Linked DNA regions of Homo sapiens. The protein of the gene in region 1 interacts with the protein of each later gene in a pairwise test. Each region holds a gene or a part of one and is shown on either strand. Other genes may lie near its edges.

Region 1 (3,824 bases):
GCATGTAACTGTTAGTAGCTGAACCTATTAATTCCCTTCCCCTTCCCTTGTTCTACGTAGTTGTTTTCTCATATATACACATATATATGTATGTGTATATGTGTGTGTGTGTGTGTGCGTGCGTATATATATATATATATATATATATATATATATATGGTTTTTTGTTTTGTTGTTTACGGTTTTTTGTTTGTGTTTATTTTTTTGTTCATGTTTATGTTTTTTCTTGTTACGTTTCCCAGGCTGGTCTTGAACTCCTGGCCTCAAGCAAGCAATCCTCCAATCCCAAGTGCTGGGATTATAGATAGGTGTGAGCCCAGATGTAATTTTTTTAAAATCCCTGTCGCTTAAATCAGTCTTAGAATAGAATTAGATTGTTCTGTACCTATAAACTATCAACTGGGATCTGATATTGTAACCTCTCACCAGAATCACTTAATGTGGTATGATCTGATCTATTTTTTTAATCTGATTTTTTTTTTTTTTTTTTTGAGACAGAGTCTTGCTCTGTTGCCCAGGCTGGAGTGCAGCAGCACAATCTCTGCTCATTGCAACCTTCGCCTCCCAGGTTCAAGCCATTCTCCCACCTCAGCCTCCTGAGTAGCTGGGAATACAGGTGCTTGCCAACACATCTGGCTAATTTTTGTATTTTTAGGAGAGATGGGGTTTTGCTATGTTGGCCAGGCTGGTCTGGAACTCCTGACCTCAGATGATCCGCCCGCCTTGGCCTTCCAAAGTGCTGGAATTACAGGTGTGAACCACTGTGCCTGGCTGTGTTCTTACTTTTTAAAATGTTCTTTTCCTCTGATCTGAGTGAGTTTGGAGGCTTGTTACTGCCTGGATTTGTGGCCTCCTGAATGTAGAGGAGTTTGGAGGTATGTGTGTCCCTGTGGTTGCATGGTAGGTGTGGGTATGAGGATGTGATGTGTCTGGGGGATGGTGGTTTATAGGCTTTTTGTTTTTCTCCAGAGGCCCAGTTGGTTGATGACTTCAGTTTCTTAGAGGTGAAATCCCAGTGAAACCGAGTCGAATCCCCAGTAGAGGGGAAGGTCTGAGCGAGGTTCAGTGATTTGTGGGCACTCGAGGAAGGTTGGCCTTTAATTCATGGAAAGGGTTCCTCATGGGCAGTTTGGACCTTGCTGTTAGGGTGGAATGAGAGGTGCTCCAACCTTAACAGAGGCACAGAAACTAGAGAAGGGACCTGGTTCCCACTGCCACAGCCACCCGGCCATGCTAGACACCTGCGTACCCTCTGCCTTTTAGTTAATTGAGTACTCCTTGTTGGTTCTAGTAAATTCTGTGCTTACCTATGCTAAATAATACTTATTTTTAGATAGGACAGTATACCCATAGCATCAAGTGTACACCTGCGGAGTGTCAGCTTACGTGAGTGGGAATTTTCCCCAAATTTCTCAGCCTCTGCAGTGCTACCCTCATCCATGACTTTATCCTCCCTTCCCCAGAGCAGGGCTTCTGGACAAGGGAAGGTAACTTTTCTTCACATACCAAAATAAGCAGATCTTGATAGAGCTTCAAAAGAGAGGGAACCAGTTTCTCTTTTAAAAGGAAAAGTGGGCTGGTCTAAACGGTGTCATACAAGTCAATGGAATTAACAATACACAATACACAGAGCCGGGTGCAGTGGCACGCACCTGTAGTCCCTGCTACTTGGGAGGTTCAGCTGAGCCCGGAAGTTCAAGTGCAGCCTAGGCAACAGAGCAAGACCTGCCTCTGAAAAAAAAAATAAGAAACACTCCAGCAGAATCCACTGAGAACTGTCGCTGCCCTTAGCATCACCAGGATATTCCCCGCAGTTGTGTTTCTCAGTCTTGTATTGGTGATAAATGGTGCCTGAATTAACGCACGTACAGTTGCAGAGGCCTCTTTCCCTGGTGGTGTTTGTATCCTGGCAACGTTGCCGCGTGCTGTGGCTCATCCCAGCCTGAACAGCTGCTGCCGGTGTTAGAACTGAGCAACGGAGACTTCTAACCTTTAGCCTGGATTCCCAGTTCTCGTGTACCAGTGTCACATTTTGTAGCTGTCAGGAGCCCAAAATAGAATGAAGAGATCTGTAGGGGAGGAGCTTTCATCAGCCAAACCATTTCTTTCATAATTAATATTAAATTGATAGTAAAACTAGGTATTTCCAGCTTTTTTCATATCACGAATGTAAGACAGATACCAGTACCTCTTACGCAGAGCTCAGCTCATCCGTTCCTAAACTGGGGTACAGAAGCCCTCCTGGCCCCTGGGATGGTCCATAGATAAGTATCAGAGGAGTCCATGTACCCCAGGAAAACGTATGCACAATTTTACTAATGTATTTGCAGTGTTTTGGGGGCAGGGCCTATGGTTTTTAGCACGTAAGAGTGTGAGAGGATCCCAGGAAGATTAAGAATTGCTATAGTCAAATGCAGAAAGTACAGTTTTACAAAGGGCCATTCTGTGTCACCTAGCAAATGATCTCTTTCATCCTGCCCTCTTGCTACTTCCTAATCACGATTCATTCCATTTTTCCATCTTTTTCATTTGATATCAATCTATTAGTGAATGCTTTGCGAACTATAAAAATGAATCAGAAGTGGATCCTGCTTTTATGGCGTTTACAACCAAGTAAAGGAGATTGAGTCATGGAATGTAGAGTTAAAAGGAATTGCAAAGATCTTCTGGTCCAGCTGTCTATCTAATGCTTAAATCCGTTTTCAAACAGCTCCGTTGAGTTCTGTCCACCTGTGCTTGATGGCTTCCAGTGCTGAGGGTCACCGTCTCCCAGGATGACCTCTGTGGACAGCTCCAGCTATTCAAAAGTTCCTCTTTACACTAAATTGAGTCCACATCTGACTGCCCATGACTTCCACCAGTCAGTCCTAGATTTCCTTCCCCGGCCCCCATGGGGTCACACAGAACAAATTTGTGGCCTCTTTCGTGCCCTAGTGCTTAAACATGTAAAAGGAGACCTCATCTCCTTCCGAAAACTTCTCTGAGCCATCACCCCAAAACCTGCAACTCTTTCTCAGGCGTCAAAGTTCTGAGTCCTTTCACCCTTTAACAGGGATTAAAATGTAAAATTGTTTTATAAAATTTGGAAGCTGAGACAGGAGAATCGCTTGAACCTAGGGAGCAGAGGTTGCAGTGAGCCAGGGTTGCACCACTGCACTCCAGCCTGGGTGACAGAGGAAGACTCCATCTCTCAAAAAAAAAAAAAAATTCTAGCTGTTGTAAAGCCATTCTTATAGGTGTTGCCCATTGTGTTCTTTATGACCCTTGTAGAGAGATTCAGAAGGTCATTCTTGTATCAGATGTCCTGAGATGTTTACTGTTATTTAATAATAATGTTCAGTGGATCTGTTACTATGTAGTTTATGAGTAACAAAGACCCAAAATAACAGTGATTTGAATATGACAGAAGTTTGTCTGTCATGTGAAAGTCTAGAGGTGGGCAGCCCAGAGCTGATTCTGCTCTTTGGTGCTCTTGGTGGATTCAGACTTGAATCTTGTTGCTCTGCCGAGAAAAACCTTCATCTCCAAAGCCACGTCGTGGCCCAGGATGGCTGCTCCAATGCCAGCCATCACACCGCCTTCCAGTCTGCAGTGGAAAGGACAAAGAAAAAGATGGGCCAAGGGCCTGCTCCTGCTGTCTTTTCAAGTTCCCCAAAGTGGCTGCAGGAGACCTCTGCTTACCCCTCATTGACCAGAACTCTGTCACATGGCTGCCCCCAGCCGCAGTGCAATCTTTGTTCTGGACAGCTGTGTCCCTAGCTGAAAAGTGAGGCTTCTGTTAATTTGAAAGAAAAGGGGTACAGCCATCGGGGAACAACAAGCTG
Region 2 (3,824 bases), on another chromosome or scaffold:
CTTGTCCCCATGGAGCAGGTGGAGGGCAGGTCCCACAGGGACGCACTGCGGGTACGACCTGGACTTGTCCCCAGGGAGCAGGTGGAGGGCAGTTCCCACAGGGACGCACTGCGGGTACGACCTGGACTTGTCCCCAGGGAGCAGGTGGAGGGCAGTTCCCACAGGGACGCACTGCGGGTACGACCTGGACTTGTCCCCAGGGAGCAGGTGGAGGGCAGTTCCCACAGGGACGCACTGCGGGTACGACCTGGACGTGTCCCCAGGGAGCAGGTGGAGGGCAGTTCCCACAGGGATGCACTGCGGGTACGACCTGGACTTGTCCCCAGGTGCCAGGGCCAAGTAAGAAGAAAATGTGCCTTCCTTCCTATTATACCATTTTCTGTTTTGGTCTTGTTCTCTTGATAATATAGGTAGGGAAACAGAATCAGCAATTATTAGAAGGCCACCTCTACTTTGTCCTTAAAGGAGTTGGCAATGGTTTGACCAGAATCAAAGAAGTATATATTTTGAAGATTAAGAGTTTAAAACAGTTTAAGAAAAAAAAAATTTATAGGTACCATTTAGCTTTCTAGTTGAAAACCAACACATCTGCCTTTGGGGTCAGAAGCAGCTATATCTAGGAGAGGGATACTCCTCTTTATAAAAGATGAAGGAGTTCTAAGGAGTTTATCAGGTCAAAAGACATTCCTTACATTTTCTGGATGGCATCCTAGTAATATTACAACAGTAGTATCTAACTCTTGCTAAGTACTTAACAAGGTGCTGGGTAGCAGTCTAAGGGTCCCATGTCCAATTCAGTAGCCATGGCAACTCATAGTTATCACATAACTAATTATATGTGGCTTTCAGCCTAAAACTTCCTAGAAAATAAAACTAAAAAAATTAGAAACAATATTATAAATGCAACGGAAACTATACAGGCAATATCCTATTAGTGTATCAAAATTTTAACAAACTAAACACAGTATTAAATTGCAATTTTTTTTACTTTTCAATAAAATACTTGCTAAACAGTCTTGTCTGAAATTATAAATTGCCCAAAGTTAACCATAAATGAGTCATTCTATTGAATTTAACAAACATTTAACTTTGCAAGAAATAAATTTTTATTTTTCTTCATTATCATACAGCATTTAAGAATAATAAATCTGTCTTGAGGTTTCAAATCTGAGATATCTATGGCAAGTTTATAAAAAGTACATTGATCAAGGTACAATTTTTAACATTAATATACACATTCCATAATCTCATCTATTTAACATTAACACAGGCCTTTGTTGTTGTTATTTTTTTCTCCCTACAATATTTCCTGACTCTGTAGGACAGTGGTCCTCAGTTGGGGGTTGACTCTGTCCCCTAGGGGCATCTGGCAACATCCGGCATAACTGTGGGTGTCACATGAGAGGGACGCTGCTCACCATCCTGCAATGCACAGCACAGACCCCACCACAGGGGTTTTATCCAGCCCAAATGTCAACAGTGTCAAGTTTAAGCAACTCTTACCGAGTGGGACTCAATTCCCATTTTATGAACACCTCTGTGCTCACTGTAATTCTGAAAACACAGACTTTGCTAACTGGTAAATACTATTTACAAGAAGATTCAACCTAATCAATATCACTTATCAAAAGCAGTGGCTGACTGTAAGTATCAACATGTTTCCAGAATGAATAAACCACACAATCAACTCAGAATGATACAAATTAGGGTCCATATCATTTAATTTCCCTTGAACCTGCTCTGCTAGTTTAATCTGCTAATATGAAAGTTAATTAAGACTGTTTTGAAGGAGCGAGACAATAGTTTCCTTTGCACATTTTTCTGAACTATGAGAAAAATTTAATGATACATAAAGCACCTGGCAAATAGCAAGTCCTCTGCAAGTGCTCCGGAAATGTTTATCACAGCCTACTAAAAACAGAGTTTCACTCATTTGTTCAAATTTCCCATAAGTATGTATCTGCAAAGATTAAATTAAGTTTTATTTGCTCGCTCTCATTTTACAATAATCTCTCACAAATGTCGCTTAGAAACAGAACACATATCCAGGGTGTGTGATACAAAATTATAAGTTAGTTTTTTCCACACAAGTTTTAAAGTATCAGTGTATATAATACATTAATGATAGTACCAAATGATAGAACTAAATTTAATGATAAATTAATGATAGAACTAAATTTAAAAGGAAAAAGTCATTCTAAGTTTGTTAAGCAGATAAATTTTTCTGTAATCATTTACCTACATATTCACATTCTGTATATTTTCTCATGGTCAACAAACTGATTCAAATGATTTAAGTTATCCCACCATTTAAAGAGAAAAGTCGCTGCAATAATTTTAAACCATGGCGTTATCTTAATTTCACCACTGGCTGCTTTTTTCAGAAGTTCTTTTAGTTCTTCCTTTGACACATAACAATAGCTTTTAATCTCATTGGGATCTGGATTCAAAGTTACATTCTTCCTCACCAACAAAATGTAATCAATTTCATGTTCACCCCAGATACCATCAGACTGAGCTTTGTAGTGAATTCGTGTTAAATAATTAATTTCTTCTGGAGGAACCTAAGACATTAAAAAAAAAAAAGTAATTAAAACATCGGCCACCGTAACAAAAAAAATCTAAAATTAGCTCACTGTATTACAGCGATATCTCGAACAGCAGTATAGTTTTAGGATTAGAACTTGGTTAAAGCATTAATCTCCTATCAATGGTATATGGAAATCTTAATATTATATATGGAAAAATGATTACATCATTAGTTTCAAGTGTTTGCGTTTTTTTCCCGATCAGATAAGTTTTTTTTTTTTTAATGTTAAAAAAAGGGGCAGTCACTCAAACTAGAAATGTGACATTCTTCTTTTTCTTCTTTTTTTTTTTTTTGTGAGACGGAGTCTTGCTGTCACCCAAGCTGGAGTGCAATGGTGTGATCTCAGCTCACTGCAACCTCCGCCTCCCAGGTTCAAGCGATTCTCCTGCCTCAGCCTCCTGAGTAGCTGGGATTACAGACGTGCCGCCCCACCATGCCCAGCTAGTTTTTGTATTTTTAGTAGAGACGGAGTTTCACCATGTTGGTCAGGCTGGTCTCGAACTCCTGACCTCGTGATCCACCTGCCTCAGCCTCCCAAAGTGCTGGGATTACAGGCGTGAGCCACCACGACCGGCCCGACATTTTTCTTTTTCATATTTTAAAATTGCTTTTTGGAAAATATAGATAAGAAATACTTTATTTATCCAGGTCTTATTTAAGGGGGACAATTCCAAGAAAAAAAATGATTTCAATTAAACCAATGAGATTTATGGTTCATATTCCTAAGAGTTTCCATCAGAAAATCTTCACCTTTTTTGTAGGTGGGGAGTTTTAGGTGAGAACTGGAAAACCTGTCAGTTAAATTCTACAAGAGCTGTAACACTTGAAAATACTCATCTTAGATTTGATCAATTATAGAAATATTCAACCTTATATAGTGCTTAACAGATCAATCCATCCCCGTATTGAGCTAAGTTTTGACAAGTGATATTAAGAAATTAAAATTTAAATAATCTTTATTCAAGATGGTTTGTGGGGCTAACTCATAACTCCGGAGGTTACCAAGCAGAGAACTACATTTGAATTTAAAAATTTTATTAAAAACCTTTTTATAGTATGTTTAGGTTTCAGCTTGTATGGTTGTGTAGGAGAGCTGGTTACCTCTTCCAAGGGAATTCCTAGCTCAGCTTTCAGCCGTCTCTGTGCTGCTCGCCTCACTCCAAGGGCGTCACTTTCCTCAAGCTCGGCTGGATTGCTTAATGGATGACTACAACACGTATTCGTAAAACAACCT

The links.
Region 2: the proteins of MLYCD (region 1) and IDI1 come close enough for resonance energy transfer, tested with the Homo sapiens proteins (one large-scale study listed by BioGRID).

What each region holds. Positions count from the first base shown.
Region 1 is NC_000016.10:83,902,033-83,905,856, forward strand, and holds part of MLYCD (malonyl-CoA decarboxylase, mitochondrial), read left to right. Parts: intron 1-3,824. UniProt on the Homo sapiens protein: Catalyzes the conversion of malonyl-CoA to acetyl-CoA.
Region 2 is NC_000010.11:1,038,941-1,042,764, forward strand, and holds the end of IDI1 (isopentenyl-diphosphate Delta-isomerase 1), read right to left. Parts: intron 3,823-3,824; coding exon 3,692-3,822; intron 2,565-3,691; coding exon 2,247-2,564; 3' UTR 479-2,246; downstream 1-478. UniProt on the Homo sapiens protein: Catalyzes the 1,3-allylic rearrangement of the homoallylic substrate isopentenyl (IPP) to its highly electrophilic allylic isomer, dimethylallyl diphosphate (DMAPP).